7 linked regions of the Homo sapiens genome follow. The protein of the gene in region 5 purifies or fractionates together with the protein of the main gene of each other region. This does not show direct contact. Each region holds a gene or a part of one and is shown on either strand. Other genes may lie near its edges.

Region 1 (3,500 bases), on a different chromosome or scaffold from region 5:
TCTAGCATGTTCCCATGTCGGTCTTCCAACCTGTTAGAATTACAGGCCTGAGCCACTTTGCCTGCCACACACCCTTTTTAAAAAGCATTGCTGGATTTTCCCTTTGCACAGGGTGAAATCAAATCATTGATGAATGAGCATCAACCTACTAGGCCAATGAGAATCTGAGCTAAGTGTCCCTACCTGGGTGACCCGTGTGGTATATACTCCCAGAATTGAATACTAACTCCTGTGTCTGCCTTTATTTTTTCCTGTGTCTTGTTTCTTACTTTAACGGGGAATGAACTAAGATCAAATACAAAGTGATTTCTAGGAACATGAAACCACTTTCTTTTTTAGAGACAGGATCTCACTATGTTGCCCAGGCTGTTATCAAACACTTGGGCTCAAGTGATCCTCCCACCTCCGCCTCTGCCTCCTGAGCAGCAGCAGGCGCCCTCTGGCAAAACCACTTTTAATTCCAGAATTTCAGGCTCCCTTTTCTCTATCATATCTGTGTGCTTTTTCAATAAAAATTAATTTGCTTCTAATTGAAAACTAAAAATTGTATATATTTATGGCATATAGCATAATATGCTTTGTAGTATTACAAACATTGTTAAATGGCTAAATTGAGCTAATATTCATATGCCCTACCTCATGTACTAACCATTTTTGGTTTTGAGAATACTTGAAATCTAATTTTTTTTAAGCAGTTTCCAAGTATACAATACATTGTTATGAACTGAAGTCACCATGTTGGACAATTGCTCTTTTGAATTGATTTCTTCAATTGAAATTTGTACTCTTTGACCTATATCTTCCCAACCCCTACCCCAGCCCTGGTAACTATTCTACTCACTACTACTATGAGTTCCACTGGGTTTTTAATTATTATTTATGTTATTTACTTCTTTTTAAATTTTTTTTTGTAATTTGAACTTGTGTTTTAGATTCAGTGGGTACCTGTGCAGATTTGTTGCATGAGTATATTGAGTGATGCTGAGGTGTGAGGTATGACTCTACCCATCACCCAGGATATGAGGATAGTACCCAATAGGTAGTTTTTCAACCCTCCCTCCCTCTATCCCTCCAGAGTTTCACTGTTTTGGAGTCCACGTCCTGATTTCCTTTCCTCTGTGTACCTGCCCCGGAGCGGGATTGCCGGATCATGCAGTTGTTGGACTTTCAATTTTCTGAGGAGCTTCTATACTGTCTCCCATATCGGCTGCTCTAATTTACATCCCAGCACAGGGCGCAGAGGACCCCTTTCCCCCAAATCCTCACCAACACTCGTTCCATGTGTCTTTTTGGGAACAGCCACTCTAGCAGGCGTGAGGGGTGCCTTGTGGTTTGGATTTGCATGTCCCTGATGATGAGTGATAATGAGCACCTTTTCCTAGACCTGCTGGCCATTCACATGTCTTCATCTGAGATGTCCACACAGGCGCCTTAAGCCCTTCTAGTGGGTTATGTGTTTTCTCGCTCTGGAGGAGTTTGAGTTGCTTATGTTTTGCACAGGAGCCCCGTGAGATGTGTGGTGTGTAAATATTGTCTCCTCCTCTGGGTTGTCTCCCGCCTCTGCCGATTGTCTCCCTGGCTGTCTCTCTGTTCTGCACTTGCTCAAAGTCCTTCCAGGAAGTGTGGGGCACTCGCCCTCCAGGCTACCAGTGACTTTTCCCAAGACCCTTCTGCCAGTTTTTTCTCCCCTCTGCAGACCTTCAGGTTGCTTCCCCCACCTGTGTCTAGGAAAGCAGGGCTGTGTTCTCATAGCTGTTGAACTTGGACGATAATTGATGCCTGGAGAGTATCACTCAGTGGCTCCTGCCTAATGAAGCTAGGTTTAGGAATTAATTTTTAAAAATCTTATTATTGTATCAACCCACTTCTTTAAAATATCAAAGAGCACTAGACTTTAAATCCATTTTCTGAGATGAGATTAGGAATACAGAAACCCTTAGAGACAGAAGGTAGATTAGTGATTGCTAGGGGCTGGGGTGGGTGGGCAGGGGGTGATCACTGATGGGGATGGGGTTGCTTTTGGGTTGATGAGATAATTCTGGAAGTAAACAGTGGTAATGGTTGTACAACATGGTGCATGTCTTAGTCCCATAAAATCGTGAACTTGAAGAGAGTAAAAAATGATGAAATTTATGAATGTACATTTTACCAAAATAACAAAATATCTGTGTAGGTGCTTAATCCTCATAGGATCCTTTAATGCTGTCCCTTCCCTGGAGCAAGTAAATGTTCTGGAGTTAACAAGAATATGTGTTGGGGAAAATATTACATTCTAACTCTTTTTCTCTATCCTTTTGCATAATTATGACTAAGGGCTTTGCCTTGGATCTTGTCCTGATGGGGAAACATAAAGGGCTTACTTTATTGTTGCATCACATTTTCAGAGCTTCACCTAACTATCTTATTTAATTTATAGTCAAGAACAATGTTGTTCCAATTGACAGGAAAACTGATTCAGCCTCTGCACAGTGATTTCCTAGAGATCAGAATCCAGGGGTCATTAAGATTTTAAACCAGAGTATGTAGTCAGGTATAGACACTGGAAGATTTCCACTGTGCTGAATTCGATGCTGCTGAAGAAGTGGCATCCAGGATGAGGGATTTCGAAGGGAGGGATGGATGGAGTAGTAACTTAAACTAATGAGGCTCATACTTTTCCCCCCCAGACTTCTGAATGAACAGTGAATCTATTACTGAGGAAAACCAGAGGAAGCCTGTGTAGATAGGTATCAATTAGATACCAGCTACTGGAAGAGCTTTCTCAGAGACTGATTAAAAAATTCTCCACTAGATATGGCTGCAAATTGCACATCCTCATGGAGTCTAGGAGAATCCTGCAACAGACCTGGGTTGGAGCTGCCACGGTCTATGGCATCCTCAGAAACTCAACTTGGAAATCACGACGTGGACCCTGAGATTTCTCACGTGAACTTCAGGATGTTCAGCTGCCCGAAGGAGTCGGACCCCATCCAGGCTCTGAGGAAACTCACTGAGCTGTGCCATCTGTGGCTGAGGCCCGACCTCCACACCAAAGAGCAGATCCTGGACATGCTGGTGATGGAGCAGTTCATGATCTCCATGCCCCAGGAGCTCCAGGTCTTAGTCATGATGAACGGTGTGCAGAGCTGCAAAGACCTGGAGGACCTGCTACGAAATAACAGAAGACCCAAGAAATGGGTGAGTGGGACCCTCGTGATTGGTGCAGGGAAGGGGAGCTGGGATGGGGGCTGCACGGTGCAGCTGGACTCGAGAGGACCCGAGGGGCTGCTCTAGGTCAGGGCTTCCAAGTAGAGGAGAGTTTGCCCGTCGGGGACACATGGCAGTGTCTGGGGACAGTTTTTGTTGTCAGGGAGGACAGGAGACGCTGCTAAGCGTTCTCTAACGCTCAGGACAACCCATCATGACAAATAATCATCCAGATTCCAATATCAGCTGTGCTGAGACGGCAAGTTCCTGGTGTAGGAGATGGACAGGCAGAGGGGGTACAGGGACCCACACAC
Region 2 (3,500 bases), on a different chromosome or scaffold from region 5:
AAACAATTCCATTTGCAACAGCATCAAAAAGAATAATCAGGAATAAACTTAACTGAAGAGGCAAAAGACTTGTTTACTGAAAACCAAAAAACACTGCTGAAAGAAATTAAAGTAGACACAAATAAATGAAAAACATTCCGTACTCATGGACTGGGAGACTTAAAGTTGTTAAGATGTTAATACTACCCAAGCAATCTACAGATTCAATACAATTCCTATCAAAATCCAATGTGTGTGTATATATACGTTTTTACAGAAACAGAAAAATCCATCCTAAAACTCACAGGGAATCTCAAAAGATACCAAATAGCCAAAACAATCTTGAAAAGAACAACAAAAATGCAGATCTCATATTTTCTGATTTCAAAACTTATTACAAAGCTGTAATAAGTTTCTGTAGTTTGCTGACCCCTGCTTCAGAGGATTTCATCGAGTGTGACAGCAGCAGAGACGGAACTCACAGACCCATGCACCTCAACCTTAGGGTCTAGGAACGTCATCTGGTTTTTAGAGAATTACAGAGAGTGCTCAAAAGTGTGGCTGCTGGTCACCAGTGCAAACAGGATTTCATTAGCTTCTCAATCTGCTCTAGTAAGTCCTTTGTGAACAGAAATACCCTCCCAGTAGTATGCTCATTCAGTAAGCTAGTTAATGTCTGAAAAATTCACGTTCCAACTCTATTATCAAATGGAACGATTACTTTTTATTGGTTTTTAGAAAAACACAGAATTTTCAATAGATGACATCCGTCTTTTCATTATCCCACCTTCCTTTCTGAATCCTTCCTCCTGCTACCTATTCTGTAAATGATCAGTAGCATTCTGAGAGTTATACTTCCCAGTGAATTAGGGAGTCAATGTTTCTGCCATTTCTACTGTGCATGTTTTCATGCTGTTTTAGTTAAGTAGAAAATTCTCTGCATTGACGAAAGTATCTTTATTTTGCCTAATTCTAATGACTGGCAGATGTGACAGATTAACATGGCTTGAGTTATAAAAGCTCCATTATCACTAGAAGCAGGGAGAGATTAGAAGCTTCCATTTAGTTTTACAGCCAAGGGAAAGCTAATGAGAATTCTAAAACTTTTTTTTCAAGAAATTAACAAAACACATGGATTAAAGGTATAATGCACCGCAACTGTTTTAACAGCTAGAAGAATAAAGAACTTTTTTTCTTTCTTTTCTTTTTCTTTTTTTTTGAGACGGAGTCTCACTCTGTCACCCAGTACAACCTCGGCTCACTGCAACCTCTGCCTCCTGGCTTCAAGCGATTCTCCTGCCTCAGCCTCCTGAGTAGCTGGGATTACAGGCACCCGCCACTATGCCCGGCTAATTTTTTGTATTTTTAGTAGAGATGGGGTTTCACCACGTTGTCTAGGCAGGTCTTGAACTCCTGACCTCGTGACTCGCCTGCCTTGGCCTCCCAAAGTGCTGGGATTACAGGCGTGAGCCACCATGCCCAGCCAAAGAATTCTTTTTCAAGAGGTTTTAGTTCAACCTGTCTATCCTAGGACATGAGGTTTCCAGAGCTTGTCTGCAGGGATGACACATTTACTCTTAGTCTCTTGGGCTTCCAAAGAAAGCGGAAGCTGTCAGAGGAAGCTACTCAATGAGTTAGAGAGACGTTACCTGAATCCACGCCTGCTGTTTGATGTCGCCTTTGTGGGTTTTACCTTCATAGCCTTTGCCACCATACTTCTGATCTTCACTTATGCATTTCACGTGGTTTTTATAGTCATCGCCCCTTTAAAGTGATCAAAAGTTCTGCCATTAGACTGATACCCAAGTTGGAGGCGCTAATACCAGCATGCTGCCACTATCTTCTGTGGTCTACACTGTATATTTTCACATGTGTCTATCACACAAGCACCCCATCTATTTCACTTATTATGTTTACAGCCTCCTGGTCAGAACCACATCCCCCTTCCTCCAAAGTCGTCAATATAAAACCCATCACCAAACTTTTCCCCCATTTTTATAAACACCTTAAGCTAAATTGATAGGCAGTATTTTTTTAAGTCATAAGTGTACATATACTGAATAAACAAGAAAATAGTTCTATGCAATAGGGTAGTTTTTTTAAATTATAAAAATCTCAATGTCTAATAGACAGTCAATAATTAGTTGTAGAATAAATCAAAAACAGATATAAAATGGCAGCATGAGGTTACCAACAGTTCTGGATCCCTTAGGGTCCTGAGAAAAAAGAAAACTAAATTCTCTCTCATATAATCTTTGTAAAGCTCTATGGGGTTCTTCAGGGAAATGTTGGGGACAAGGTCCAGGGCAAAGTCCCCTAATGAAAACTCAATTTTAACCTACTTTATATATCAAGCTTCCTCCTAGGATTACGTCTGAACAGAGGTTAGCAGTTTCCAAAAAAAATCACTGCTCCAGAATGAATTAAAAGAGAGTATTAGCCAGTACCATCCGAATGCCTCAGAGGACACTGGGGCAGATGCAGCCAGAAGCCAGCTTCTCGCCTGGACCTTCTGAGGCTGAAGGGGAATCAACATGAAATTCAAGAGGGGAGCCCTCTGCAAACGACCCACCTGAAGAACCGGTGTCTAAGGCAGGATCTGTCCTGTCCCTCCCCGCTAACTCCTCACATTCACAGAGGCCTCCTCAGTGGAAGTGTCTCCTGACACACCCGTGGGGCCAGGAAGAGCCTCACTTCCACCAGCACCTCTGATTTTCTAGGGAGGACATAGTTTCCTCTGCTACCAGTCATCTGCCCCACTGTGAGCTCATAAATTCACTTTCTGGTTCATAAGTCCATCTCTCCACTGTGATGGGCATGTGATACCCATGGTCTAATGAAACTGGCTCTAAACCCCTGGAGCCATCTTCCACGCAGTTAGTTCCCTGGGTCTGTAAACAGTGGCAATGCAATAGCAACCAGTGTCACCAACTGACTGAACACTCTAATCATCATAATTCCCCTTCCCCTAGTCTTTTCTTTAACATATCCTCAAAAAGCAAATTGTTTCGTAAAGCACATTTCTCCCCCCCAAGAAGGGGTTAACTTGCTCTGTTGCCCAGGCTGGAGTGCAGTGGTGAAATCTCGGCTCACCGCAACCTCTGCCTCCTGGGTTCAAGCGATTCTCCTGCCTCAGCCTCCCGAGTAGCTGGGATTACAGGCGCCCACCACCACGCCTGACTAATTTTTGTATTTTTAGTAGAGACAGGGTTTCACTATGTTGGCCAGGCTGGTCTTCAACTCCTGACCTCATGAGCCACCCACCTTGGCCTCCCAAAGTGCTGGGATTACAGGCCTGAGCCACTGCGCCCGGCCTAGTAAAGCACATTTGAAAGAATCACACCAGTTTTAATCAATGGAACATACCAGTTTTTAGTCTTAATTTCATTCTTCAAATTTGCCACTATTTTTCCAAGCTTTGTGGCGCCAAGGCTTCCAAAACTGATCTGGATTTACTATGGATCTACATGAATTCTGTGAAGCTTACCAGAAATCTTTACCGCAGTCAATGCAAGAAAGGC
Region 3 (3,500 bases), on a different chromosome or scaffold from region 5:
CATTTGTTATGTTGAAGGACACAGTCATGTCCCTGGCTAGAGAAAGGACACTGCCCTTAGCTCCAAAAATAAAGACTAAGTTTTTATTTGAGAGAGATTTTTTCCTCTTTTTATATACATTTTTTTCCTCTAGGAAATAGACAGACGGTTGGAAAAAAAACTGAAGATCACACAAAAAGAGAGGTAAGGCTGCTGTCTGGTCTGAGGGCTCATGCTCTCTGTGGTTTGAGAGCCGGGCAGTCAGTGGTGTTCTCCAGCTGGCCATTAGGATTAGCAGGTCCTAGCAGGTCAGGCTCTGGGGCAGCAAACCCTTCCCTCCAAATTGGAGACCAGGACGTGGTGGCTTGAGGCTTTAGGGTTGAGGCTGGGGTGTTGCACCTGCCTCTGACCTTCGTGGGCTCCCTGTGTGAGGTCATCTGATGCAATGTGAGGAAGTGACAAGTTGGAAGACTTGAGTTTTAGGCCTGGCAGTGCCCCAGTTGCTCTGAGGTCTGGGGCAAGTCATTTCCCAGATCTGGACATCAGTTTCTTTCTCTGTGGCATGAGGAGTGTGGGCAGATGATTTCTCTGGGTCCCCAGTGACTTGGTGGTCTAGGGTATTATGAGGGTATCCTGGAAGAAAACATTCTAGGAAATTCTTGAAAAAACCTTTAAAAATAGCTTTGTTTTCCACCTAGACGACAGAGGAGGGTGTTTCCAGAGTAGGTGAAAGTTGACTTCGGCTTTCTGCTTTTGGGCTTAGGGAACCTGTTGGTTTTCCATAGGTACAAGGGACAGGAAGGAGGATAGGGCCCCTCTGGATTTGCTCACGGGGCTGCACAGTCATTCCCCAGGAAACTCTGGGTGCTCTGCCCGCCCGCTAGTTTTCCTGGCTCCCTGCCTCTTTGATCAGATTGCTGGCTCCTTGTCTGTCTGCTCATCTCAGCAACCACGCTAACCCTGGGTTACAGTCCTCGTTCCATACCATTTGTGTCCTACCCGAGACTTGTTTCCATCCACCCTGGCTCAGTTCCTCCAATCCCGACTCCTCCTGACAGCCAAGGCTCTGGAAGCAGGCTTGTTTGGTTCTGAAGAGAAGCTGGTTGACTGCTCTGGGTAGGGTCCTGGTGGCTGTTGTCGGGTGGTCATTCCTGCCTGGGTTCCTGTCTCCTCCTGTGGCTTTTGTTTCTTTCCCTTCCTGTGTTGTTGTCCCTCTTTGTTTTTTGTCATTCCACCTCTCCCTGTGGACACATCGCCTTGATGTACGCGTCCACCAGCCTTGGACAATGCTTTTCTTTTGAGCATTGCCAAGCACTGTTTCTAGGAGCATCCTTCACTCCAGCCCCGCCGCTGTCCAAAAGACCAGGGAGCCCTGGCAAGGGAGGTTTCTCTGTTCAGAAGCTTTTTGAAGAGGATTCAGTTGTCTGGTGTAGCTTGTCTCTGGGAGGCACAGGTCACTCTCACTAGAAGGTGGCTTGGTAAATCTTGATGCCAGGCAGGGATGGCGTAGTGGGCTCCTTTGTAGTGTTTGTCTGGTTTGAGCATGTGATGGAAGATTTGGCTGAGTGAACACTGCTGACCCCCAAGTTCAAAGGCTCCCACCCCACCAGCCAGTCCTACTCTGATCTGCGTAGAGAAGCTGGGATCTTAACTGACGTCATTCAATTCTGGACATAAACTGTTTTGCTGCAGGGCCAAATAGTGGTTGATGTGGCTGTGGTGAACATGGGGATAGAAGTGCCAGAATGAGGTGGCGTTCCAGCCCCTGTGGCCAGGGGTTAGGGCTGAGGAGCAGTTCCTGTGGCCTGTCAGAGCTGGTCGCAAGCTTACTTTTTTGGGACACCCTTCTTGAGGAGTGGAAATTTTGCTGTCTGGTCAGAGGCCAGAGAATCATGCATGGGTAGAATTAGGGAGGGAGAGGAAAGTGATGAGAGGTGGGTGTGGGACATGGACAGGGCCTCCTTAGTCAGGAGCATGATTTGTGAAGCTGTGTTTGCTCTTTGTCAGCAGGAAATCCAAATCTCCTCCCAAAGTGCCCATTGTGATTCAGGACGATAGCCTTCCCGCGGGGCCCCCTCCACAGATCCGCATCCTCAAGAGGCCCACCAGCAACGGTGTGGTCAGCAGCCCCAACTCCACCAGCAGGCCCACCCTTCCAGTCAAGTCCCTAGCACAGCGAGAGGCCGAGTACGCCGAGGCCCGGAAGCGGATCCTGGGCAGCGCCAGCCCCGAGGAGGAGCAGGAGAAACCCATCCTCGACAGGTGAGTGTGGCTGGCAGGGCCGGCCAGTGATGGCTGTCCCAGTCCACCCGGGAAGAGGAGAGCATCCTGGCTGCGTGTAGAGTAGTGAGAAGCAAGCAGAGTCAGGGTAGGAACCATGCAGCTCCACTTGCTGATCCCAGCCTGCTGGCACTAGTTCACTGTGCCGCATTGGCTGGAGAGGGCTCTGAAAGCCTTGCCAGGGAGGAGGTGGCAGTTTGCTGGCATGCTCCCTCTGCGGTTGGTAGTCACCGGGGGCACTGTTGTGTAGAGAGTGAAGGCACAGATGAGCTTGTGTCAAAATCTGCCTCTTACCTCTTCTTTAGAACGACTTGACCTCTCTGGGCCTTAGTTTTCTCATCTGAAAAAATGGGATAATAATAGTACCAACCTTATCAAGGTGTTGTGCAATTCAGTGAGTAAATGAGCATAGGATGTGGAGAGCCTGGGCTGGCAGAGTGGAAAGTACCCCAGATAAGTGCTTTGATGATATTTTCTGGGTCTCCAGTATGCCCACTGTGATGTTTTTGTGAATTTTCTAAATTCCTTTTTACTCTTAACATTTTTTTCTCTGCAGTATTAAAGGTTGCATCATATAAGTTTATCACTTTCGAATCAAACAGTATTCATTAAGATGGCCTCCTTCTAACTTTGAGGGGCTGCTATGGTTTGGTATTCTGGGACTTGAAGAAAAAATCTGCGTACCTTCTTTCTAGCTCTTCATAATTTTGAAGAGATACCTGTTCTTTTTGTTGTTTCTCCTCTAAGTCTTCACCTTTCCAGGGTGGAAAAATAGTCATATGAGTCAACCGTTAACCGCAGAGTTTGGAGAGGAGTGGGAGGGAAGAATTGGGGGGCGGGGGATGTGTCCCTCTGCTGAGCTCTTGATTCCAGTTCTTTACTTTGGCCTAACACTCTGGAGATTCCAAATGGTTCTGCGGAGCATGTGCTATCCATGGTCACTGCCTCTGGGCAGAGTGGGCCCTCAAGCACTCCCCCTGCCTACAAGTGCATGATGGCAGCTGAGCAGGGGGAAAGGATGCTGTAGCTGCTAGAGGTGAATGTGCACCACCGACCCTGCCTGCTCACAGGGGCCTCTCAACTTGGAGGTGCCCTGAGTCAGCTTCCCAAAGAAGCAGGCTTGCGGAGCCAGAGTGACGTGGGCCCAGCTATATGGACAGTTGATTTTAAGATGGGGGACATCTAGGCCAGGTGCAGTAATCCCAGTACTTTGAGAGGCCGAGGTGGACGGATCACTTGAG
Region 4 (3,500 bases), on a different chromosome or scaffold from region 5:
CTATACAATCAGTTATAACAAAATTATAACATGTATTGATTTTTGTGGATGTCAAATCTAAAAGTCACTATACAAAATGTCAGAAATCTGTGGTATAAAGTATGATGTCGGAAACATCATCATTAGTCTCTCTTCCTTGAAATATAATACACTGCAATCTAAATGAATTAGATTCTATAAAGACTCATTTTTCTTAACTATTATATATATGCTGATGTTCAACTATATGACTGCATGAAAAGTTGTTCATATAGTTTCATAAGGAGCTCAGTAACTCCCTAAAGACACAAAAAAGCACTCAATGATCTAATTGATCTGTTAAGAATCATAAAATTTGAGTTAAAAATTATATCAGCTTATGGAAAATTGATATTACATGTTGATGAAAAATGTGTTAACTGTTTTACCACAGAGTCTTTGTGATCCACTTGTACCCCAACACTAGCTGGTTCTGGAGGCCATAAGACCATCCTCTGCAGTGGAGTGAGGCACGTTATGGATGCAGAAAACTTACTCTAGTCAGATGCCCAGCTAGGAATTTCAGGAAATCCAAGATGTAGGCTGCTTTCCAGGAAAAAGGCACAGAAGACCCACCAATGGCAGGAGATAGAAAATTCATACTCCACCCCCAGGATTATGGCAATATAGCAATCTATTACATTTTGTGCTTCATGATCCTCTCTATCCAAAGTACATATGCAACCATAGTGGGCTACACAGAACTAGGGAATGTGAAGAAAGCAGCAGTACTGAGCCACGTGACTTGAAGTTATGGGTCAGACCTCATGGCGGAGTAGCAAAAAGAAAAGGGTGGGCAAAAAGGAAATGGAAGTATCTGAGAGAAAATTCTGGTATCCATTTTGCAGTACCAGCAAATCACTTGAATATTTACAATTTTCTAGGTTCTACAATGCTAGAAGTCATGTAATTCTGCTGTTCTGCCATGGAGAGGCAATACTCTTCAGTGGAAAGCAGCCTAGTGCTTGCTTAGACTTTGACACTAACCACACAGGACTAGGGTAGGAGCATGACAGGAAGAAAAAGGTCAGTTGGTGCTAAGAGAAAATTCATTTTTGCCTATAACTGTGAAATCACAATGACCTACGATGTTAACTGCAGTATCTTAAAAAACTGTTTTTAAAAAAGAGAAGTGCTAGTCTGTGAAAGCATTCCTATTGTCATCACTTTGTAAGCAACAGAGGTCAGAGAGAATGTTTGATCATCATTTTAGCCACTGCAGCACCCCCAGCACTGTGCCTCACATATGATAAGCAGCAGTAAATATTCATGCAACTGAATCTTCTGTATGAGCATCCCTGTCTCTTAATCCTTCTTTCTAGTGCTTCTTATTTTCCCACCTTATTTCTTCCCATAGCTCGCACTGCTCTTTGTGGTTTAACTGATAATTTGGACAACATAAAATAATAGTCTGTTGAATTTACTGGAAGATAATTTTAGGTTCACTTTTTTAATTGGGAAAGTAAATGTTAGGAACACTATCTTTTTCTCTCTAAAATACTTTGCAAATTAAGCCGTGGGTTAGCAACCTTCAACAGAAAAAAGTTCCATAACTCTAAGTTGAAGATGTGTTGTTTTCTGCTATATTAAAATACAATTTTAAAAAGGTGACTTGTGCCATACTCTTTTTTACTGTTACATAAATCTAAGAAACAAAATTTTCCACAGTTGGCTATAAAAAGTAACACAGAACTAGCCTGGTTCCTATAAAAGTATCCTTTCGAATTAGAAAACTAATATTTAATGTAAAAAAGCCACATACTTTTCATAGTTCCATCTTCTTCTTCCTCATCCTCACTGTTTATCACCATGGTCCCCAAGTCGGATTCCAACATCGTGCTATTATGTTCAATCATGGTCTGGGCCCCTTCACTCATCGTGCTTGTGGCCCGCATGGTGCCCACACTCTCCACACTAGTCTTCACCATGGTGTGGGAATCCAGCTCATCTTCATCCTGCAAGCAAAATACTGCAATGAGGGAAGACTTTTCTATGACAGCTGGATTTCTTAATTCTTAACAAGAGAATGAATATATTATAGTTTTAATACTTATTAAAAATACTATTAGTACTGATTTTAATATAAATACATACATACAAATGTTATTTTAAGAGTGAAAATTATTCAAAATAACCTAAAGCTTTAGGTAATTACAGATCAAGCAACAGAAACTGATGAAGTAGAAGGCTGCTAGTTGCTTTTAAAATAAGGATTAAGATAGGTAAACTATCAGCAAATGCATAACAAAGAATATGGTGACAAAACAACTAAATATATATGAGAGCACCTTTAAGACAGAACACATTGACACTTTGTATTATAATGGGCATAATGATGTCTATAACCTTGTAAAACAGCCATTAGCTTTTTCTTTTAAATTATGGCAAAATATACAAATACATATATATAAAATTCACCATTTTAGCAATTTTTAAGTGTATAACTCTGTAGCACTAAGTATATTTACAATGTTGTGCAACCACCACCATTATATGTTTACAGAACTCTTCATTCCCCCTTTCCCCAGCCCTGGCAACCTCTATTGTACTTACAAGAGGTATCTAGAATAGGCAAATTCATGAGTACTACTATTCATACCATAGTACTAATTCATAATTACTATTATACTTATGAATTTGCCTATTCTAGATACCTCATGTAAGTGGAATCATACAATATATTTTGCTGAGCCTAATGCATTCAAGATTCATGCATATTGTGGTAGAAAAATTTCATTCCTTTTTAAGGCTGAATGATATTCCATTGTATGAATACACCACATTTTGTTTCCCTATTTATCTGTTGATGGCCATTTGGATTGTTGACACCTTTGGCTACTGTGAATAGTGCTAATGTGAACACTGACCTACAAGTATCTGTTTGAATCCCTATTTTCAGTTTGGTTGGGTATCTACCTAGAAGTACAATTGCTGGATCACATGGTAACTTCATATTTAATTTTTTAAGTGCCCAAACTGTTTTCCACAGTGGCTATACCATTTTACACTCCCACCAGCAATGCACAGGATTCCAACTTCTCCACATCCTTGGCAACACTTGTTATTTTCCATTTTTAAAAAATAATAGCCATCCTAATGAACATGAAGTGTTATCACATTGTAGTTTGATCTGCATCTCCCTAATGACTACTGATGTTGAGCAATCTTTTCGCACGCTTATTAGCCATTTGTATATCTTCTTTGGAGAAATATCCATTTACCCATTTTAAAATGGGTTGTTTGGTTTTTCTGTTGTTATTACAAATTCTGGATATTAATTCCTTACCAGAGATATAATTTGCAAATATTTTCTCCCATTCTGTGTGCTTTTTACTTCATTTATAGCGTCTTTTGATGTAAGTTTTTAATTTTGATGAAGTCTGATTTATCAATTTTTTGCTTTTGTTGACAAATCTCAGCTTTTAAATGTTTCACAGAAGAATCAAGTCAGTAATAAAAGTACAAATTAAAAGTGCTCTTTA
Region 5 (3,500 bases):
CCAGGCGTGGTGGCTCACTCCTGTAATCCAAGCACTTTGGGAGGCCGAGGCGGGCGGATCACAAGGTCAGGAGATCAAGACAATCCTGGCTAATATGGTGAAACCTGTCTCTACTAAAAATACAAAAAATTAGCCAGGCGTGGTGGTGGACGCCTGTAGTCCCAGTTACTCGGGAGGCTGAGGCAGGAGAATGGCATGAACCCGCGAGGCGGAGCTTGCAGTGATCCGAGATCGCTCCACTGCACTCCAGCCTGGGCGACAGCGAGACTCCACCTCAAAAAAAAAAAAAAAATTCCAAGTCAGTTGGGTTCCTGTGTGGAGACCCCAGCGTCTCATCACTGCTGTGATTCGGCCTGTGTGACCTGCACATGGTTAGCTCCTGAGTTTAGGTGTCAGCTAAAGGACCTTGGTATGGGTGGCCGTCCCCTCCAGCTCTGGAAGGTGATGAGCAGCCGTGGCCACTCAGCAACACTCCTTGAGTCCTGCCCAGAGAGCGCTGGGAGAGGGGAGGCCTCCAGAAGCTGTGACTTTTCTTTCCAGGTGATTGTGTCCAGGGGGGGGCGCTTTCTGGAAGCCCCCGTCTCAGGGAATCAGCAGCTGTCTAATGACGGGATGTTGGTGATCTTAGCGGCTGGAGACAGGGGCTTATATGAGGACTGCAGCAGCTGCTTCCAGGCGATGGGGAAGACCTCCTTCTTCCTAGGTAACACGCCTGCACCTGTCAGGCCTGGAGCCTGGGGCCACATCTCCTCTGTTTCACACTGATGACAGCGTCAGTCCCACACGGCCTTTCTGCCGGGGACCCTGGGGAAGGTTTCCTTTCACCTGCATAGTCAGTGCGTGGAAGGAGGAAGAGCCAGTCTGTCGGGGGCAGGTGAAGGGGGCCTCCCCTGGAGAGAGGTGGGTCTGAGCAGAGGTGAGGGTGGACAGAGAAGCCCTGTCTGTGGCATTCTTGGGCTGTGACCGTGAGTCTTTACCCTGGGCAGGTGAAGTGGGCAATGCAGCCAAGATGATGCTGATCGTGAACATGGTCCAAGGGAGCTTCATGGCCACTATTGCCGAGGGGCTGACCCTGGCCCAGGTGACAGGCCAGTCCCAGCAGACACTCTTGGACATCCTCAATCAGGGACAGTTGGCCAGCATCTTCCTGGACCAGAAGTGCCAAAGTGAGTTGTTTTTGGCCCCTCTTCTTGCATTTGGTGTTTGATTAGAGCAGGGTACTAGGTCAGGGATTTAGTGAGCGTGAAAGATGCCCCTCCCCAGTCAGTCCCTGACCCTGGCCAGAGGAGGTTCAGAAACACAGTGGGCGGGATTTGGGGATATAGGCTGGGAGCTGCAGCCCTCAGGTGTCTAAGGGTGAGTGAGGAGCCAAGAGGCCTAGGCTATGTGGAACTGAGCCCTGAGTATGTTTTAGGTACTGACACCTGGTGGACCGTAAGTAGTTTTTAGTTTCAGGTCCTTGGCTTTTGTCTGATACTGGCTTTTTCTCCTCAGATATCCTGCAAGGAAACTTTAAGCCTGATTTCTACCTGAAATACATTCAGAAGGATCTCCGCTTAGCCATTGCGCTGGGTGATGCGGTCAACCATCCGACTCCCATGGCAGCTGCAGCAAATGAGGTAGGGTAGATGTGGCCCAAGCCCCAAGGCCCTTCAGTTTCTTTTTCTTTCTTTTTTTTTTTTTTTTAACGGAGTCTCACTCTGTCACCCAGGCTAGAGTGCACTGGTGCGATCTCAGCTCAATGCAACCTCCGCCTCCTGGTTTCAAGCAATTCTCCTGCCTCAGCCTCCTGAGTAGTTGGGATTATAGGTGCCCACCACCATGCCTAGCTAATTTTTGTATTTTTAGCAGAGATGGGGTTTCTCCTTGTTGTTCAGGCTGGTCTCGAACTCCTGACCTCAGGTGATCCACCCGCCTCTGCCTCCCAGAGTGCTGGGATTACAGGCATGAGCTACCACGCCCAGCCATTCAGTTTCTTTTTCTTTTTCTTTTTCTTTTATTTTGAGACAGAGTCTTGCTCTGTCGCCTCAGGCTCTTGCCACCACGCCCGGCTAATTTTTTTTTTTTTTTTTTTTTTTTTTTTTTTTTTAGTAGAGACAGGGTTTCACCATGTTAGCCAGGATGGTCTCGATCTCCTGACCTCGTGATCTGCCCGCCTCGGCCTCCCAAAGTGCTGGGATTACAGGTGTGAGCCACTACACCTGGCCAAGTTTCTTTTTCTTTTATCGTTTCCTTCCCTCTACTTAGTTTAGCTTTTCTTTGTTCTTTTTCTTTTTTTTGAGACAGAGTCTCACTCTGTCGCCCAGGCTGGAGTGCAGTGGTGTGATCTCAGCTCACTGCAGCCTCTGCCTCCTGGGTTCAATAGATTTTTGTGCCTCTGCCTCCCAAGTAGCCTCCCAAGTAGCCTGGGATTACAGGCGTGCCCCAACCCGCCCTGCTAATTTTTGTATTTTTAGTAGAGATGGGGTTTTGCCATGTTGGCTAGGCTGTTCTCCAACTCCTGACCTCAGGAGAGCCACCTGCCTCAGCCTCTCAAAGTGCTGGGATTACAGGTGTGAGCCACTGTGTCTGGCCTCTTTGTTCTTTTTCAAACCCTTTAAAGTGGAATCTTAAATCATTTATTTTAATCCTGCTTTCTTTATAACATGAGTATATAAATCTTTAAATGTCCACTAATCCGTGTTAATTTGTTTTCTGATTTCTTCTTTGATCCATGAATTACTTAAAAGTTTATCTAGTGTTTGGGTTTTCCTAGATATCTAATGATTATTGATTTTTAACTTACTGCTCTATGATCAAAGAACATGCCCTGCCCTGTATTGGGTTTTTTTTGTTTTTTTGTTTTTTGTTTTTTTGTTTTTTTTGGAGACAGAGTTTTGCTCTTTCGCCCAGGCTGGAGTGCAGTGTCGCGATCTCGGCTCACCGCAACCTCTGCCTCCCAAGTTCAAGCGATTCTCATGCCTCAGCCTCTTGAGTAGCTGGGATTACAGGCACACACCACCATACACAACTGATTTTTGTATTTTTAGTAGAGATGAGGTTTCACCATGTTGGCCAGGCTGGGCTTGAACTGCTGACCTCAGGTGATCCGTCCACCTCAGCCTCCCAAAGTGCTGGGATGACAGGCATGAACCACCACAACCAGCTGCCTGTATGATTTTTTTTTTTTTTTTTTTTGAGACGGAGTTTCGCTCTGTCACCCAAGCTGGAGTACAGTGGCACGATCTCGGCTCACTGCAAGCTTCGTCTCCCGGGTTCACTCCATTCTCCTGCCTCACCCTCCTGAGTAGCTGGGACTGCAGGCGCCTGCCACCATGCCTGGCTAATTTTTTGTATTTTTAGTAAAGACGGGGTTCCACTGTGTTAGCCAGGATGGTCTCATTCTCCTGACCAAGATGTTGAAACCCCTATCTCTACTAAAAATACAAAAAATTAGCTGGGCATGGTGGCAGGCACCTTTAATCTCAGCTACTCAGGAGGCTGAGGCAGAGAATTGCTTG
Region 6 (2,982 bases), on a different chromosome or scaffold from region 5:
CAGGAGAATTGCTTGAACCCGGGAGGCAGAGGTTGCAGTGAGCTGAAACCGCGCCACTACACTCCAGCCTGGCAGACAGAGCGAGACTCCATCTCACAAAAAAAGAAAAAGAAAAAAATATATATCGGCTGGGCACAGTAACTCATGCCTAAAATCCCAGCACTTTAGGAGGCCAAGGTGGGTTGATCACCTGAAATTAGGAGTTCAAGACCAGCCTGGCCAACATGGTGAAACCCCATCTCTACTAAAAAATTAGCCAGGTGTGGTGGTGGGCACCTGTAATCACAGCTACTCGGGAGGGAGGCTGAGGCAGGAGAACTGCGTGAACTCAGGAGACAGAGTTTGCAGTGAGCCCAGATTACGTCACTGCACTCCAACCTGGGCAACAGCACAAAACTCTGTCTCGAAAAGAAAAGAAATCACTCCCAATACTTGTCTTCCTGTGCCAAACTCAGGAGATACAATATCTACTAGGAGCTGAAAATAAGGAGGCAAAGCCAGACATGTCTACTTGTGTTTATTCTCATTTTTGCTTTTTTTAAAAAAAAAAAAAAAATGAGGGATGGAGAGGGAAATAACCCATAAACACCGCGAACAGGAACCAAGACTCCAAGACTTGGGCATACTCCCTCTACCCTCAGCCTCAGTTCTCCAAGAGATTCCCACCCACCTGATTTTCTTTTAAACAAGACACCCAAATCAGCAGCAAAGGTACCTGGGGTAGTCACTGAGATTTTGAACACTGGGAATGGGAGGGGGAAAGTCCAAAAAGTAGAAGTTGGGAAGAAAAGGGAAGGATTGAGGGAGACGCTAGGCTCTGGAGGACAGAGCTGGGCCGCAGGAGGTGGAAGTAAGCCAGTATGGGGGGTACCCCTCCTGACTGCTGTTGCCCGTATTCCCCCAGACCCCAGAGAGCCCCACGGTTTGTTCTGCAGTCCATTCCCTATTCCCCAAAGGCCTCAGAGGCCTAACTCCAAGTCCTCTAACTCCTCTTCTAGCGCCCTCCTCCTTGCTAGCTTTTCTAGCTGCTCTTTGCTAGGCTGGCTGACTTCCCCAGCCTGGATCCGCTGCTGCAGCTCTTCCACCTGCCGGAGTTTCTTCTTTAGGTTCTTTATCTTCTTGGCTTTCTCAGTGGTGGCAGCTGAGTCAGGCTGGTCAGATGCAGCTGTGGGGGCTGCCCGAGAGCCCTGTGGAGCACTGGGGAGTTGGGCTGTCTCTTCCAGGGACACCTTATCAAGAGTCCTGCTCAAGGCCTCTGCCTCTCCTTTCTCTTGCTGCTGCCGCCTCTTCTCCTTTCGCTTCAGGTTACGTTTGGCTGTCTTGGAGAGGCCTGGTTCACCACCTTCAGGCCTGGATGGGGTGACAGGAGCAGTGGCCTCAGGGCTTAGCCCTGGGGGCAACTCTGGTTTACTCTTGAAAAACTTCACATACTTGTTTTCATATCTGCAGGAAACAAAGGATGTCAAGAGTTTCAGAGAATTACTGACTTTTTGATCCCTTTTCTTAAACTTCCAAACACTTCATCCTCATTACATTCTTGCTTCCTTTTTTTGTTGTTGTTTTTGTGGGGTTGTTTGTTTTTTGAGATAGAGTCTCGCTCAGTTGCCCAGGCTGGAGTGTAATGGCGCAATCTCAGCTCACTGCAACCTCCACCTCCAGGGTTCAAGCAATTCTCCTGCCTCAGCCTCCCGGGTAGCTGGGATTACAGGCGCCTGCCACCACGCCTGGCTAACTGTGTATTTTTAGTAGAGATGGGGTTTCACCATGTTGGTCAGGCTGGTCTTCAACTCCTGACCTCAGGTGATCCACCGATCTTGGCCTCCCAAAGTGCTTGGGATTACAGAGAGCCACTGCGCCTGCCTGTTTGTTTTTGAGACAGAGTCTCGCTCTGTCGCCAGGGCTGAAGTGCACTGGCGCAATCTCAGCTCACTGCAACCTCCCACTTCCCGGGTTCAAGAGATTCTCCTGCCTCAGCCTCCTGAGTAGCTGGGATTACAGGCTCGTGCCACCACGCCTGGCTGATGTTTGTATTTTGTAATTTTGTATTTTTAGTACAGACGGGGTTTCACCACTTTGGGGAGGCTGTTCTTGAACTCCTGACCTCAAGTAATCCACCTGCCTAGGCCTCCCAAAGTGCTCAGATTACAGATGTAGGCCACTGGGCCTGACCACCTTTCTCTCTTTATGGTCCCTCCCCAACTTTCCTCTGCTCTGCAGGAAAGATGCAGCGAAGTCCCTAGAACCTAAAGCTCTGGAGGTTCTAATGAACAGAGGTCAAAAGTATAGGACTAGTGATCTGTAACCCTCACTCATCCCTGAATCCCAGACTCTTTCTCTCCTTTCTCAGATAGTTGCCCCTCCTTCCATTTCCTTGGGGCTTAGGAGAGTCCTCCCTGAACTTGTAGGCATAAGGATATTCTATCCTTCTGTAGGGACCCCATCAGAAAACCCCTACGCAAAGCCTAACCACGTACACTGGGACCTCCTCCTGGGGCACATATCCTTCTTTCACCCTCCGCTGCTTGCGCCAGGTCCCGTCAGGTCGCTGTGTTGACGCGATATACTTGCCTAAAATAAGAAAAATCAAGTTGAAAATTACTCTTATTTTCAAACATTTTACAAGATGAGACAAGAATGTATAAATGTACATACCATCTCTCAGCACCCATTCATCCAAATGCAACCATTAGGCTCCTTTTCTCATACCAACACTCAATCCCTCTCTCATTATTTATTTACCGAGTGCCAATACACCGTACAAGAAACCATCCTTGCCCTCAAGAAGATTCTATTTGTAGGTAAGACAGGATAGGCACAGAGGAAGAATTTTGTTAAAAAACCAAGGCAATAGCATGGGAACATGAAAGGCAGTAAATGAACAAGAGGCTAAAAAGACACAAAAACCACGGGGAGGAGAAATGACAATAGCGGATGTTGTAAAGGAGAAATTTTATTTAGATGGAACTTAAAAAAATAGGTCAA
Region 7 (3,500 bases), on a different chromosome or scaffold from region 5:
AGGGCTGCTTCTGGGAAGGGTGGCAGGCACACTGAACTGGGGATAGGGTTAAAGGAGGCTTTGGCTATATTTCTAATTGCTTTTCCTTTAAACAAATAACCAGAAGCAAAAAAAAAAAAAAAAAAAAAGATGTTAGCAAATGTTAATTCTCAGTTATAGAAAAATGGCTCTTAATTACATTATTATACTTTTGTTAACCATAAATTTCTTAGAAAAATAAAGGAAAAGGATTTCAAAGTGCTTAGTTTTGTGATACCTCATCCCCTACACCTACTTAGATAGGCAGGCCACAACATACGCAGAAGCTGTGTTCTCAAAGTTCATTGGTTTTTAGACCTTATTTGTTTTCCCATCAACACAATGTTATACCTAACTGTTAGGTTCCAAGGCCAGCTCTCCCATTATTTAATGTATAACCTAACAAATGTTAAGCCTAACAGTACCTCTCTCACCTTCTCTAATCATGAGGCAACTGATCACTCACGATATGGCAAAAAGGGAACCCAAGAGTTGAGTTTACCCCTGCTCCTGACAGGGCACAGGCTAGATGTTTCTTTTCTTTTCTTTCTTACTTTCTCTCCCCTCTCTGTCTTTCTTTCTTTCTTATAATAGAGATGGGCCTCACCATGTTGCACAGGCTGGTCTCAAATTCCTGGCTTCAAGCAGTCCTCCTGCCTCAGCCTCCCAAAGTGCTGGGATCACGGGCATGAGCCACGGTGCCCAGCCCAGGCTTGGTTGTTTCTTTTCTTTTTTCTTTTTTTTTTTTTTTTTGAGACAGAGTTTTGCTCTTGTCATGCAGGCTGGAGTGCAATAGCATGATCTCAGCTCACTGCAACCTCCACCTCTCAGGTTCAAGCGATTCTCCTGCCTCAGCCTCCTGAGTAGCTGGGACTACAGGTGCCTGCCACCAGGCCTGGCTAATTTTTGTATTTTTAGTAGAGATAGGGTTTGACCAAGTTGGCCAGGCTGGTCTCAACCTCAGGAGATTCGCGTGCCTCAGCCTCCCAAAGTGCAGAGATTACAGATATGAGCCATTGCACCCAGCCCCAGGCTAGGTGTTTCTGTGTACAGAATGTTTTCAAGTTTGCTGGTCAGGCTTTATACATACATACATACATACATACGTACATATACATACATACACTTATATGCACACATGTATATATATAAAATATATACATATATAATATACACATATATCTTTAAAATATATAATATAAACTAAGTATGTATCAACTTATAAACTATACACACATATATGATATAAACTAATATAGTAATGTGCCACATAAGGATGTTTTGGTCAAGAACGTACCCCATATTCCACGGCAGTCCCGTTAAGACTATGATGGAGCTGAAAAATCCCTACAGCCTAGTAACACAGCTTTCATGATGTTGTAGCACAAAGCATTACTCACATGCCTGTGGTGATGCTGGTGTAAATAAACCTACTGCACTGTCAGTGTTATAAAAGTATAACACATACAATTATGTACAGTACATAACACTTGATAATGATAATAAACAACTACATTACTAATTCACATGTTTACTATACTATATATTATTATTTTAGAGTGTAACTCTACTTATTTAAAAAATTAACTATAAAACAGCTTGAGGCAGGTCCTTCAGGAGGAATTCCTGAAGAACGCACTGTTATCCTAGGAGATGACAGCTCCATGCCTATCACTGTCCCCGAAGGCCTTCCAGTGGGATGAAATGTGGAGATGGAAGGCAGTGACACTGATGATCCTGACCCTGTCTAGGTCCAGGCTAATGTGTGCGTTTGTGTCTTGGTTTTTAACAAAGAAGTTTAAAAGGTAAAAAGAAAGTTAAAAAATTTAAAGTAGAAAACAGCTTACAGAATAAAAATATACAGAAAATATTTTTGTACAGCAGTACAATGTGCTTGTGTTTTAAACTGTTATTACAAAAGGGTCAAAAAGCTGTAAAAAAATTTTTTAAGTTCATGAAGTAAATAATTTACAGTAAGCTAGGTTTAATTTATTATTGAAAGAAAAAAGCGTATGAATAAATTTAGTGTAGCTTAAGCATACCGTGTTTATTTTTATTTTTCATAATGTCTGCTCAGTAACAAGTGTACAGTGTTTATAAAGTCTACAGTAGTGTACACTCATATCCTAGGGCTTCACATTCATTCACCACTCATTCACTCACTCACCCAGAGCAACTTCCAGGCCCACAAGCTCCATTCATGCTAAGTTCCCTAGATAGGTCTATCATTTTTTATCTTTTATAACATATTTTTACTTTACCTTTTCTATATTTACATATGTTTAGATACAAAAATATTTACCATTGTGTTCCAATTGCCTGCAGTATTTAGTACAGTAACATACTGTGTAGGTTTGTAGCCTGTAGCCTAGGAGCAACAAGCTATACCATATAGCCTAGGTGTGTAGTAGGCTATGCCATCTACATTTGTGTTAAGTACACTCTATGATGTTCACATGACAAGGAAATTTCCTACTGACAATGTATTTCTACTGTTAAGTGATACATAACTATATGTATATTAGTTTGTATTGTTCAGTAATGGAGAGATTGTGTTAGACTCTAGGGGCCAGGGATCAAGTAACTGTACTAGGGTCCCCAACACTTAGGTGCCATGGCAATAAATAAATGAAGAGCTAACCAAATGCCTGCATTCTGGACAGCTCTGTTTAAAAGGTATTTCATGGAGTTTTTCATTTAATCAATAGAAATCCAATCACTAGGCCAGGCATGGTACCTCACGCCTGTAATCCCAGCACTTTGGGAGGTGGAAGCGGGTGGATCATTTGAGGTCAGGAGTTTGAGACCAGCCTGGTCAACATGGTAAAACCCCACCTCTACTAAAATACAAAAATTAGCCGGGTGTGGTAGCACATGCCTGTAATCCCAGGTACTTGGGAGCCTGAGGCAGGAGAATCGCTTGAACCCAGGAGGCGGAGGTTACGGTGAGTGGAGATCGCACCACTGCACTCCAGCCTGGGCGACAAGAGCGAAACTCTGTCTCAAAAAAAATAAAAATAAAAAAAGAAAAAAAAAAAGAAATCCAATCAATAAAAGCAGAGAATAGTTTCCATTCAGTAAGTGGTAAACAACAACTAATGCATTTGGCACTTTCTCTTTCACAGCTTCTATCTAAAGCCAATCTCATGAGGCACCAACTTTCATACCAGGCACTATCACTTCTCTGCTTCCTATATCTCCCTCCTCTCCCAGAGACAGAATGTTTCAGAAAGTAGATTTGCTGCCTAAGATTCATGTCATTGAAGCTGCAGTAGAAGAGTCATTTAATATATGAAATATAAGGCAAGACTTTTCAAAAAAAATTCTCTCTCAGAAAATACAAGTCACTTTATATTCAAATACTTACAAAGTACCTCTTGCTGTAGGAAGTTTTGCAATTTCCTTATTTTGAATACAAAGTACCAGCTGGGGATGACACAATACCCTAAAACAACCTCAGTTAAGGCTGCTTTGGCTAATGG

What was found.
Region 1: the proteins of GLYR1 (region 5) and ZSCAN5A purify together in Homo sapiens (co-immunoprecipitation; one large-scale study listed by IntAct). This does not show direct contact.
Region 2: the proteins of GLYR1 (region 5) and LYAR purify together in Homo sapiens (affinity purification with mass spectrometry; one large-scale study listed by BioGRID and IntAct). This does not show direct contact.
Region 3: the proteins of GLYR1 (region 5) and SZRD1 purify together in Homo sapiens (co-immunoprecipitation; one large-scale study listed by IntAct). This does not show direct contact.
Region 4: the proteins of GLYR1 (region 5) and STK3 purify together in Homo sapiens (affinity purification with mass spectrometry; one large-scale study listed by BioGRID and IntAct). This does not show direct contact.
Region 6: the proteins of GLYR1 (region 5) and PYM1 purify together in Homo sapiens (co-immunoprecipitation; one large-scale study listed by IntAct). This does not show direct contact.
Region 7: the proteins of GLYR1 (region 5) and FNTB purify together in Homo sapiens (affinity purification with mass spectrometry, with the first as the bait; 2 studies listed by BioGRID). This does not show direct contact.

Annotation. Positions count from the first base shown.
Region 1 is NC_000019.10:56,224,340-56,227,839, reverse strand, and holds part of ZSCAN5A (zinc finger and SCAN domain-containing protein 5A), read left to right. Parts: intron 1-2,666; 5' UTR 2,667-2,793; coding exon 2,794-3,177; intron 3,178-3,500.
Region 2 is NC_000004.12:4,280,155-4,283,654, forward strand, and holds part of LYAR (cell growth-regulating nucleolar protein), read right to left. Parts: coding exon 3,467-3,500; intron 1,744-3,466; coding exon 1,629-1,743; intron 1-1,628. UniProt on the Homo sapiens protein: Plays a role in the maintenance of the appropriate processing of 47S/45S pre-rRNA to 32S/30S pre-rRNAs and their subsequent processing to produce 18S and 28S rRNAs. Also acts at the level of transcription regulation.
Region 3 is NC_000001.11:16,391,242-16,394,741, forward strand, and holds part of SZRD1 (SUZ RNA-binding domain-containing), read left to right. Parts: intron 1-133; coding exon 134-183; intron 184-1,986; coding exon 1,987-2,241; intron 2,242-3,500.
Region 4 is NC_000008.11:98,546,189-98,549,688, forward strand, and holds part of STK3 (serine/threonine-protein kinase 3), read right to left. Parts: intron 1,974-3,500; coding exon 1,781-1,973; intron 1-1,780. UniProt on the Homo sapiens protein: Stress-activated, pro-apoptotic kinase which, following caspase-cleavage, enters the nucleus and induces chromatin condensation followed by internucleosomal DNA fragmentation.
Region 5 is NC_000016.10:4,809,289-4,812,788, reverse strand, and holds part of GLYR1 (cytokine-like nuclear factor N-PAC), read left to right. Parts: intron 1-540; coding exon 541-703; intron 704-986; coding exon 987-1,166; intron 1,167-1,494; coding exon 1,495-1,619; intron 1,620-3,500. UniProt on the Homo sapiens protein: Cytokine-like nuclear factor with chromatin gene reader activity involved in chromatin modification and regulation of gene expression. Acts as a nucleosome-destabilizing factor that is recruited to genes during transcriptional activation.
Region 6 is NC_000012.12:55,900,913-55,903,894, forward strand, and holds the end of PYM1 (partner of Y14 and mago), read right to left. Parts: intron 2,569-2,982; coding exon 2,475-2,568; intron 1,444-2,474; coding exon 960-1,443; 3' UTR 501-959; downstream 1-500. UniProt on the Homo sapiens protein: Key regulator of the exon junction complex (EJC), a multiprotein complex that associates immediately upstream of the exon-exon junction on mRNAs and serves as a positional landmark for the intron exon structure of genes and directs post-transcriptional processes in the cytoplasm such as mRNA export, nonsense-mediated mRNA decay (NMD) or translation.
Region 7 is NC_000014.9:64,993,395-64,996,894, reverse strand, and holds part of FNTB (protein farnesyltransferase subunit beta), read right to left. Parts: intron 1-3,500. UniProt on the Homo sapiens protein: Essential subunit of the farnesyltransferase complex. Catalyzes the transfer of a farnesyl moiety from farnesyl diphosphate to a cysteine at the fourth position from the C-terminus of several proteins having the C-terminal sequence Cys-aliphatic-aliphatic-X.